Regions from separate parts of the Homo sapiens genome. Here region 2 is linked to region 1. The links come from fine-mapping of genetic effects on gene expression. Tissue or cell type: whole blood. Region 1 holds a variant in brackets; the other region holds the start of a gene. All regions are shown on one strand. Distances are between the middles of the regions.

Region 1 (4,797 bases):
ACAAAAATCCCGTGAGTGGAAAATTGTATGGATCTCTAACATGACATAAAAACGCAACTGCGTTTTACTTGCTACCTTATTGCACACCTCACTTCCTTGATTGAGCCTTTAAAAAACAATTCCAAGTTGATATTTTTTTTTAAAAAGTAGATGACAATCTTAACATTTTACTGTATTTTACATTCACTCTGCTAAACAAAAGCCTTTAAACAGGCACAAAACACTGCAACAATACATTAACTTCCTAATAAAACAAACCTTTTTAATAACATTGAAATAAAATGGTTTCATTTTGCATTAAACTACATACCATGAACTTCTCCAACATAAAAGGACTAAAAACAAGCATTAGAAGATATTTACAAACTATCTTTAAACTTCTACAGGTCTCTCCTCCTCCTCCTGGATGTGCACACCCCAATCCAGTTCACCCATCAAGTGCACAGCAAAGGAAGAGAGGCCCATTTAATAAACATAATGTTTCCAACACCCTTGAGGACCATGGACAGTTTTGCAAGAAACATGGTAAGGCAACTAGAAGCATAACTTTCTGCTGAAAAGAGTCTCTGGGGGTCTTGTCTACGATAACATACATTCTTTGTCCCTACAAACTCATACTTCAAAAATGAATAAAAGCATTAGAAATGGCATTAAAGTTTTACATTGGGCAATTAAATAGCTATGCAAAGGTGTCTTATGCAACTCGATTAAAACCTTGTGCTTACTCTGCTACTGAAAATAGCACACGTAGAAGACAATACTTCCCCAACCAAACAAAAAAAAAAACAAAAAACAACGAAACAACAAACCCCAACAAAAACCCAGGAAGAAGTATAAAAGCCACCAGCTCCTCTATCAGAGCTACTTATCAGTCCTAGGCTTGCCAAACATTGCGGTGGGATTGGGAATCTGGGGAGGAGGGGACAGGGTGAGAGATGTGGGAGTGGGGGCATGTTTAAGGCTAAGGCACATGGAGAATGAGCCCCGGCTAACGGTGGCAAAGGAGAGCTTTCCAGTGTTTGGACTCAGAAGTGCGGCAAGTCTTTTCAATGTTGGCTTAAGGAGAGATCCAGTGTTTAATTTCTTTTAAAAAATAGTACCGCCATGATGATACATGGTAACACCATCAACCCTTAATGCCAGCAGAAATACAGAGGTTTTACTCATTTTAAAATTGCACTTTCCAGTATAACCTTTAAAATAATGCTTTATGTAGTATTTTTAAGCACTACTGTTTGTATCTTTAAATATTGTATATATTTTTCAAAATAGTTCCCTAGCTCCTCAAGTGTGCTTTTTTAATATATAGTTGATATATTATTGAAGGTACTACAAAATAGAAATCTCTGGAGTGCAGAAGTTAAGAAAATAACCTTCATACTGAAAATATATCCTTAAAAAAACAACAACAAAAACCTCTATACAAATGTAGTACAGCATACAAATTTTTAAAAGATGGAATGAAGGCACGAACCATTGCAAGTCTTTTGGAAATGTATGAACGTAGGCATGCTAAGTTGAAAATAGTCTTAAAAAACTAGTGAAAACTTCATGTATATAAAATAATTCAGAAATAAATCTGCTAACATTCTTCACTTTCAGGTTGCATGTGTGAATCCAACATGTTCCTTCTTCATAAATAGTCAAGCGTTCCTTCAGTGGTGTTTGTGTGGTCTGTCTTCGTGCTGGTCACCAGCCTCAGTATGTCTGGTAGACGTCGGGGATGGGGACCTGAATGGCAGCAGCAGGGAAGGCCTGAGGTATGTAGCCTGCGTATCCTCCATACA[T/C]GGCGGCCGCGGCTGCCGCGTTCTTCTGTAGTGTGGCGATCGTGGCTGTAGCTGGAGCAGCAAATGGCACGTAACTGGCCCCGTAGATCCCGGCAGTAGGAATTCTCTGAACGTTTGGAGCCACCGTGTATACTGGAGTTATTGGGCGGCCCTGAGGAGAAGAGACAAAAAGGAGCCTTCCTGAACACGTGTATGTACCTATCATCCATTCATTCAACAAGCCTCTCCCAGAAGACGGGAATACAAAGACACAAAAGCAAGGGAGAGAAAGGCAGAGGGGCGGGCAAACAGCAATTATTGTAAGCAAGTGGGAGAAGAGCCACTGAAGAGGTAAGGTGGAGCTGCATCCTCAAACTCAGTGATGCCACCTTGTGAAAGTGAGAGGCCTGGAAGGCTGAGGGAAAGGTGAAATACAGTTGCCCCTCAGTATCCTCACAGGTGATTGGCTCTAGGACCTCCGTGGATACCAAAATCCTCAGATGCTCGAGTCCCTGAGAGAAAATGGCGTATTTGCATTTAACCTATGCACATCCTCCTGTATACTGTAAAAAAATTTTTTTTCATAGAGACAAGGTCTCACTATGTTGCCCAGGGCTGGTCTTGAACTCCTGGCCTCAAGCAATCCTCCTGTCTCAGCCTCCCAAAGTCTTGGGACCCATACACTTTAAAAATAATCTCTAGATCACTTATAATACCTAATATGATGCAAATGTTATGTAAATAGTTGTTATATCGTATTTTGACATTTGTATTTTTTTATTGTTGTATTGTTATTTTTTATTGTCTTTATTCAAGCCACGGTTGGTTGAATCCAGATGCAGAAACTGCGGATAAGGAGGACCTTCTCTGTACTGTATTCCGGAATCTTCTACTTACCATTCCACTCAATCAGTCTATGCCCCAGAGTGAGCTAGAGAAGGCAGCGGAGAATCTACCATCCACACAATTGATTTCACAGTAATTAAAAATCAGTGTTTTTCCTTAAACATGGCCTCTAGATACATGCCAGCTGCCTCAACTCATACTTAACTGATGGAATATGATCTGTCTCAGAGACAGAGAGAGGAACAGACTGTGTCAACTTAGAGAAACCAAATATACTGATCTCCAAAGGGACAGCTTCTTAAGCTGTGACCTTAAAAAATTGTGACCATACACAATTTTCAGCCAATGTGATGGTTTCCATCACCTCCCACCTAAGAGATGACACCATTAATGTATACAAATTGTTGTAGAAGCTTAGAGAAAGAACCAACTAATGGGGAAGTTGGAGAAAATGTCTCAGCAGCGGGGATATTCGAGCTGAGTTTTGAAGGATAAAGAGCAGTTTCCAAATGAGGAAGAAGTGGGCAAGGACAAGCTAAGTAAAGTTGCCTGAACTGTTGACGGCCACCACTGGCTCTAGAAAAGCCCCTGCTACTTCCTTCTGTCTACTTGAAAGTGCAACATAAGATGTTTTCAGAACAAACAGGAGTATGAATGGGAAGACTGTGGTTCAGTATTTCCCAAAGTGTTTGCCATGGAACTAGTTCTGTGAGATGCTTCATTGAAAAGAGATTCTGAATAAAATAAAACATTCATTTAACAAAATATTTGGTGCACCTCATGAGCCATAGAATGCCTGGTAGTAAATGCTGGTATGGTCTCCCTATATGTTAATACATCTTCAAAATAAACAATTCAGCATATGTGAAATGGTGAATTAAAATAATTATTTCTTCCTGGATTTTTATAAAGGAATTAGCTCTAATTTCTGTTACAAAATTTGCAAATCAGAGTTCCAAAATTGTGCTCAAAGGAACTTAGGAACTTCTAGCCTAAGATTACTTTTTAAAACTATAATCAAATAGTAATTATAATTTATAATAATTTTAATTTATAATTATAATGATAATTATAACAATTAATAACTCAGAGGCTGGGTGAGGTGGCTCATGCCTGTAATCCTAGCACTTTGGGAGGTTGAGGTAGGAGGATGGCTTGAGGCCAGGAGTTCGAGACCAGCCTGGGCAACATGGCGAAACCTTGTCTCTGCAAAAGATACAAAACTTAGCCAGCCATGGCGGTGCGTACTCCTGTAGTTCCAGCTACTCAAGAGGCTGAGGTGCAAGGATCACCTGAGCCTGGGAATTCAAAGCTGCAGTGAGCTGGGATCATACCACTGCACTCCAGCCTGGGCAATGGAAGTGAGACCTTGTCTCAAACAAAACAAAACAAAACAAAACAAAACAAAACAAAACAAACCCCCAAACTCAGGCACTATTCTAAGTGCCTTATTTGTATGACAGTATTGAATCATCACAGCCACCAGTAGAGTTGGTACTATGATTATATGGAGTTGTGTGGAAGTGTTAAATGACCTGCACAAAGTGACACAGCTTTTAAGCAATGCAATGTGTGACTCTGGAGCCTGCACTTTTAGCCTTACGTTAACTTGCTTCTTACAACCCTAAACAATGAGTGTCTCATCAGTGACATTTTACAACCAGGGAGAGGAGCTCCAGAACTGGAAAGACTGTGGTTCACAGCAAGACACAAGTCACCTTTTCCACATGTGTGGACGTAGGTTTAATAACCAGTGCAAAAAGGGAGAGGAAATGGCAGGGAAGGCAACATGTGAGAGAGACCTTTCCATGTGCTACAGGACGGCCCAACACCTGGGTTCAGGCTGCCCACTCCAACACCAAGTTTTGCACATAGACATGCACTGGCTTACGGCCTGGAATCAAGAGTAGGTCCCCAAACCCATGGCTTCTCTTTTCATTCATGTGATGTCCCTTTTATGATAGCATTCACCACACTATAAGGACAAAGCATGCAGAGATCAGGCATCTGATCTCCCAATCCCAATTCTACTCCCGGCCAGCAATTCTGTCTCCTTGCTGGGCCTTAATTTTCTTATCTGTAAAATGAGAATATATGGGGAAGCACTTGGTTTTGCTTTCCATGGTTTCAGTTACCCGCGGTCAACTGAAGTCTGAAAATATTAAACTGAAAATTTCAGAAATGA
Region 2 (4,797 bases), 200 kb after region 1:
GCTTTGGGCAGAATTCTTTCAAAATTTAATTTAAAGCAGCACAGTGGGGGAATCAAAAATAAATATGTTGACTATTAAAAATATAGAGATTGGTAAAAAAAATGATGATGATGAATTCTCAATCCTACAAACTTCTGTAAACGCAAAAACCAAGAGGAAGATAATAAATCTTTAATAATTGATTGATATTCAGAATATCTTGATCTAATTAATTTAAAGCATGGCCTACCTAGCCAGGTAAAGGACGGCACAGCTAGGCTTATTTCTTCATTTGACACATACTGAAAGTTAATAATGAAGCTAGGTGCTTGGGAAATTTCTGAGACCCCATCCTTCCAGCATGCAATAATTAAGTCAAAGAGGCCAACAGTGTGTATATCAGAACAAGGTGAAGGGTAAAGCAGACCAGAAAAAAATATTAAAAACCAAACCATCTCCTCCTTTCTTTTTTTCCTTCTGTTTTCCTTTCAGACTGGGTTGATTTTAGTTCCCTCCAAGACTTCAAGTCATTGATCTAACAAAGATCATTGTTTAAATTAATAGCAACACAAACTCCCACAAAGTGATCTCTTCTTATGCTCTAGGTTGAGTACTTTGGTTTATCTAGAGGTTGTGTGTTACGCCGCTGACCACCTTTCACCTTTTAGAATCGGCACCTGCAATTCTCAAATGCTCTGGATCTAATTGCCAACCTTTTGAGCTCAAAACTTCGGCAACTCCTTCATGTTGGGTTGTCAACCCTTTGCTTTCCCTCCCCTGAGAAATTCGTATGACCTTGCCTTAAAACTTTTAAAGAATACATTTTAAAATCTATATTCCTGCTAAAGAAAACAGTGAGTCATTAAAATACCACCAGATAAAAAAAAAAGGTTTGATTTTTAGTTCAGGTCGGTAATGGCCTGTAAGTACCTTGAAGATGGTATCTTCCTATCACTTATGCCTTGGGACAGTACCCAAGAGTGGCTGAACTTTTACCTAATTAAAAAATGAGTCATTTATTTGAAAAATTCCACTTCCATTTATTTTATCTGATTTCTTAAATATCCGGTCAACTGCTAATTTGTCAGATGTCATAATTCGTCAGTCCTACCCTTTTCTACAGGCTGAATTTTTAATTTGAAACAACTACACCTCTACCGAGTGTTACTTTCAGACGTAAATTACTGCAGGAAGACCCCCCTCTGCCTTGGTTAACACTTAAATGAGATGCCTCCTGTCCAGGACGCTTCCTCAGTCTCACTGTAATAATCTGAGTCTAAAGTCACCTGTGCTTCTGGGCGGTCCAATCATGTATTTTCAAGAGTGAAAAAAAAAAATCAGTTTCTTTTATGGGAAAAGATTCATCACTACAGGAAACACGATGGGACTGACTGTATATGATTATCTGCCTTCCCAGAGGTTGACCCTTTTAAAACCGTTTTATAAACCCTTTATTTCCCACTAAATATACCAAGAGACAGAAGATGAGTGATAGCATGAGGGATAAGAGCTAAAGAGAGAAGAATAAGAAAAAAATATACACTTCAAAAATTGGGACCCAAATGTAAGATTAAGGGACAATAGTTAGAAGGACTACCAAAAACCACCTTACCTTTCCTTGTTAAGTTTTTGGAGCCGCCCACTTCAGAAATTAACACCATTCACAGCCCAGGAGCAACTTAACACAGCTAGGAAGTCACCTACAACATCTTCTCGTCCGCCTTCTTTTTAATGTAAAACCAAAATAAGGAGTGTCCAGCGACTCCCCACCGCGCCGCTTAAAGCAACAGAGCGTTTTAGGCTTAACTCCCAGGCTCTGGGAATTCCAGTGGGTCAGAATTGCTTAACCTTGGAGACTTGCAGAGAGAAAGTCTCCAGGAGGACCGCTCCCCAAACCCTGGTTTCTCTCTATCCCAAGCTGCACATTCCACAGTGGAAAGCGGGAGCGGCGACCCGAAGGCAGCGAAGTTCTCTCGGGCTCAGCTCCCGAGGCCGGGAGCGCGCGGCGGTTCCACCCGCAGAGCGGCGCCGCGTCCCGGCTGCGTGGGGCGCTGCGCACGGGAGCGCTCAGCGTCTAGTCTGCGGGCCCTTCCCGGTTCCCTCCCTCTCTCCTCCCGCCGCCCGCCCCCTGCCGAGGCCATCCGCCTCACAGTAGCAAGGTTGTCTCTCGTCTACTCCCTTCCCTTAAACTCACCAAACCAGATTTTTACTCCCAACACCGGCAACTTCCCGTAAATCTGCCCTGAAATTTTATCCTGCTGGCTGAGCCTCCCCTGGCTAAAGGCCAGTGCCACATTCCTGTTGTTTTTTAGGAGCGCAGATACCTTTGCTGAAGGTTCAAAGAAAATCGGCCTTGATGGCAGAGATTGGGGGACTTGACCAGACGGACTTCTCTCCCCGCCCCAAAAGTCACATGCCTTTCAGACACCCAGAAGTGGCACCTGCTCCACCTGGGGGCATCTGTCCGAGTCAGACGCTCGGCCCCCTTCGGGCTGCTCCGAGAAACCCAGCCAGAACCACGTTGGAGAAATTAGGAACCTGCTGCTGAATTTCAAGCCGATCGGAACCGCCCCGCTCCCCTTCTTCCCCCCATAAACAAGTCGCTGGACGAGGTGGGATCTCTGCGACCCCCGCGTGCCCGGGGAGAGCTCCCGGGGCGAGCTCCCGGGGCGTCCTTACCTGGGGCCGAGCATGGCTTGGCCGCGCGCAGGCAGGAGCGTCACGCGGACGGGGCCCTGACCTTTGCCGGGGCCTTCGCAGCAGGGCCTGGGGCCTGGGCGCTGCTCGTTCAGAAGTGGCTCATTTTAGTGCGCTCTGACCTAGAGTTACGGAGGGTTTCTAGAAAGGGAACAAAAAAACACTGCATTTAGAAACAGCAGCCAAGCCCTCGCTTCACCTTGCCTGCTCTCTGGGGAGTTGGCTCGAACCCCCACCCCATCCCAATTCCCAAGAAACCCAGATGTCCGCAATCCGCGCCCCACCCCCTCCGCCTTACCTGTTTATACAAGAGTTAAGGAGCCTCCCGCATTTCAGTGGAGCGCTAAGCCTGTTTGTAGGCGCGGAATGGGCCAACAGGAATCGAATTCTGTGACTAAACAAACTAGAAGAGGAAGCAGGCACCACCAGGAACCTAAAACAGAGTTGTGATTTCGGGTTGCAGTGTCATTCAGCTGAGGGGAAAGAAAAAAATACCGGGCTACTTTAGTGAAAGAATGTTCCAAAAATGGTTCTTTGCTGGTTGAGTTAACACATGCAAAGAGCTTAGAACGGTGCCTAGCACACAGTGTTAGCTGCCGTTATTGTTGTTGTTATTCTTCTTATTATTATTTACATTATGGCTTTTTTCTGAAGAAGAGTGTGTGGTCAGAGTTAGACATGGGCTGTAGCACCAGCATTGCCACTCACCAGCTGTGAGGCCATGAGCAAGATATTTAATCTCTCCCAGCCTCAGTTTCTGGAAGATTCTAACGATGGGATTTTTACAAACAGTTTATATTCATTGCTGACAGTCTTGAATACAATGGGAAATAAAGTCCCTGTAAAGGGTAGCCAACTGAATTTCATCTCACTTAAAAGTTACAAGATTGACAACAGAAATGGAGATAAATTTGCCTGCATTCCATGAAGCTCACTAACGGGAAGGAAATTCAGGGCCCAGCAATCACCCATCTGCTATGCTTAATTCTCATTTGTATTTTGGCACTTGACCTGGTGTCTTACCCTGGGATAGTTACTTATCCCAGACTGGGCCGGACAAATAATGACCCTTGCCGTTTGAAAAGCAGTATGAAAGAGAGGGAAATGATTTTGAAACTCCTCATAAATATTAAAAAGTGATTATTGAAGGCTAAAATGTTATCAGTGCCTCCACCCTTTATCCTCCATTTAACTTCACATTTAAAGAAAGAAATCATAATCCCTTTCCATTAGTGAGGCCCTTTCTACTTTATGGAGCACTTTCACCCTTCTTACTTTATGTGATCCTTACAAAATGATCCTATGAGCTATTTTGTCCCCATTTTGCAGATGAAGACACTGAGATCACACAGGTTAAGTGTAAGTCCAAGGTGGTGAGGCCAGGACTGGTTCTCAGTTCTAGTTAATTTTTTTTTAAGTTGAAAAATCAAACTGGATTTATTAAAATATATATAAATAACCCTCATTTTTCTTTATTTCATCAGTATTGGAAAGTTAAGTGAAAATTAATTAAAAAGTAGTAGTCCTAAGAGAGAGAAACAAAGGCTGAAGGGGTATCAAGAAAACCATAAATTTAAAAAGCAGCATTTGCCACCTTTGGGAAAAATGATTCCTTAAAACCAGCAAAGCATTCTGGAACATTTTAAATCCTTCTGATCTTTTATCTTCTCATGAGGCAAAATTTAACCCAGACAAATTCAACATTTCCTGTGTTTTAGGTTCATTCTTTGTCGATACCAGCCAGCATGTACTGTGAACAGCAGGCAGTGGGAACTCTCTTAGCTAAGTTCCCTCACCAGACCTAAGGGTTGATGCTGCCAGGCACAAACAACGGCTCCACCCCCTTAAGACAACTAAAAAACCCAGCTCCATATTAGCCTGAAATTTTCTTTTCTTTTCCAGAAGTATCTGGATTATGGCCTCAAAAAAGGCTCGCTGTCACAGACTGTCTGAGCTGAAGGATTCTAGAGGGGACATTCTCGCTGGGCACGGTGGCTCACGCCTGTAATCCCCACACTTTGGGAGGTCGAGGCAGGCAGATAACCTGAGGTCAGGAGTTCCAGATGAGCCTGGCCAACGTGGCGAAACCCCGTCTCTACTAAAAATACAAAAATTGGCTGG

What was found. PIP is the estimated chance that this variant, and not a neighbour inherited with it, causes the effect.
Region 2: RBM47 starts here. The variant in region 1 is fine-mapped to the expression of RBM47 in whole blood (TOPMed, PIP above 0.99). The same link has a PIP of 0.9 or more in monocytes.

Annotation. Positions count from the first base shown.
Region 1 is chr4:40,424,206-40,429,002 of GRCh38, forward strand. It overlaps RBM47 (RNA binding motif protein 47), which reads right to left. Exons shown (of 7, transcript NM_001098634.2): 7 at 1-1,938. The coding sequence ends at 1,699. RBM47-AS1 (RBM47 antisense RNA 1) reads left to right here and starts at 1,928. Exons shown (of 2, transcript NR_199039.1): 1 at 1,928-1,977; 2 at 2,583-3,377. RefSeq lists an enhancer at 1,217-2,416. The variant T/C (reference allele first, on the strand shown) is at 1,788.
Region 2 is chr4:40,627,805-40,632,601 of GRCh38, forward strand. RBM47 (RNA binding motif protein 47) reads right to left here and starts at 2,060. Exons shown (of 7, transcript NM_001098634.2): 1 at 1,592-2,060. RefSeq lists enhancers at 917-1,793, 1,794-2,671, 1,854-1,923.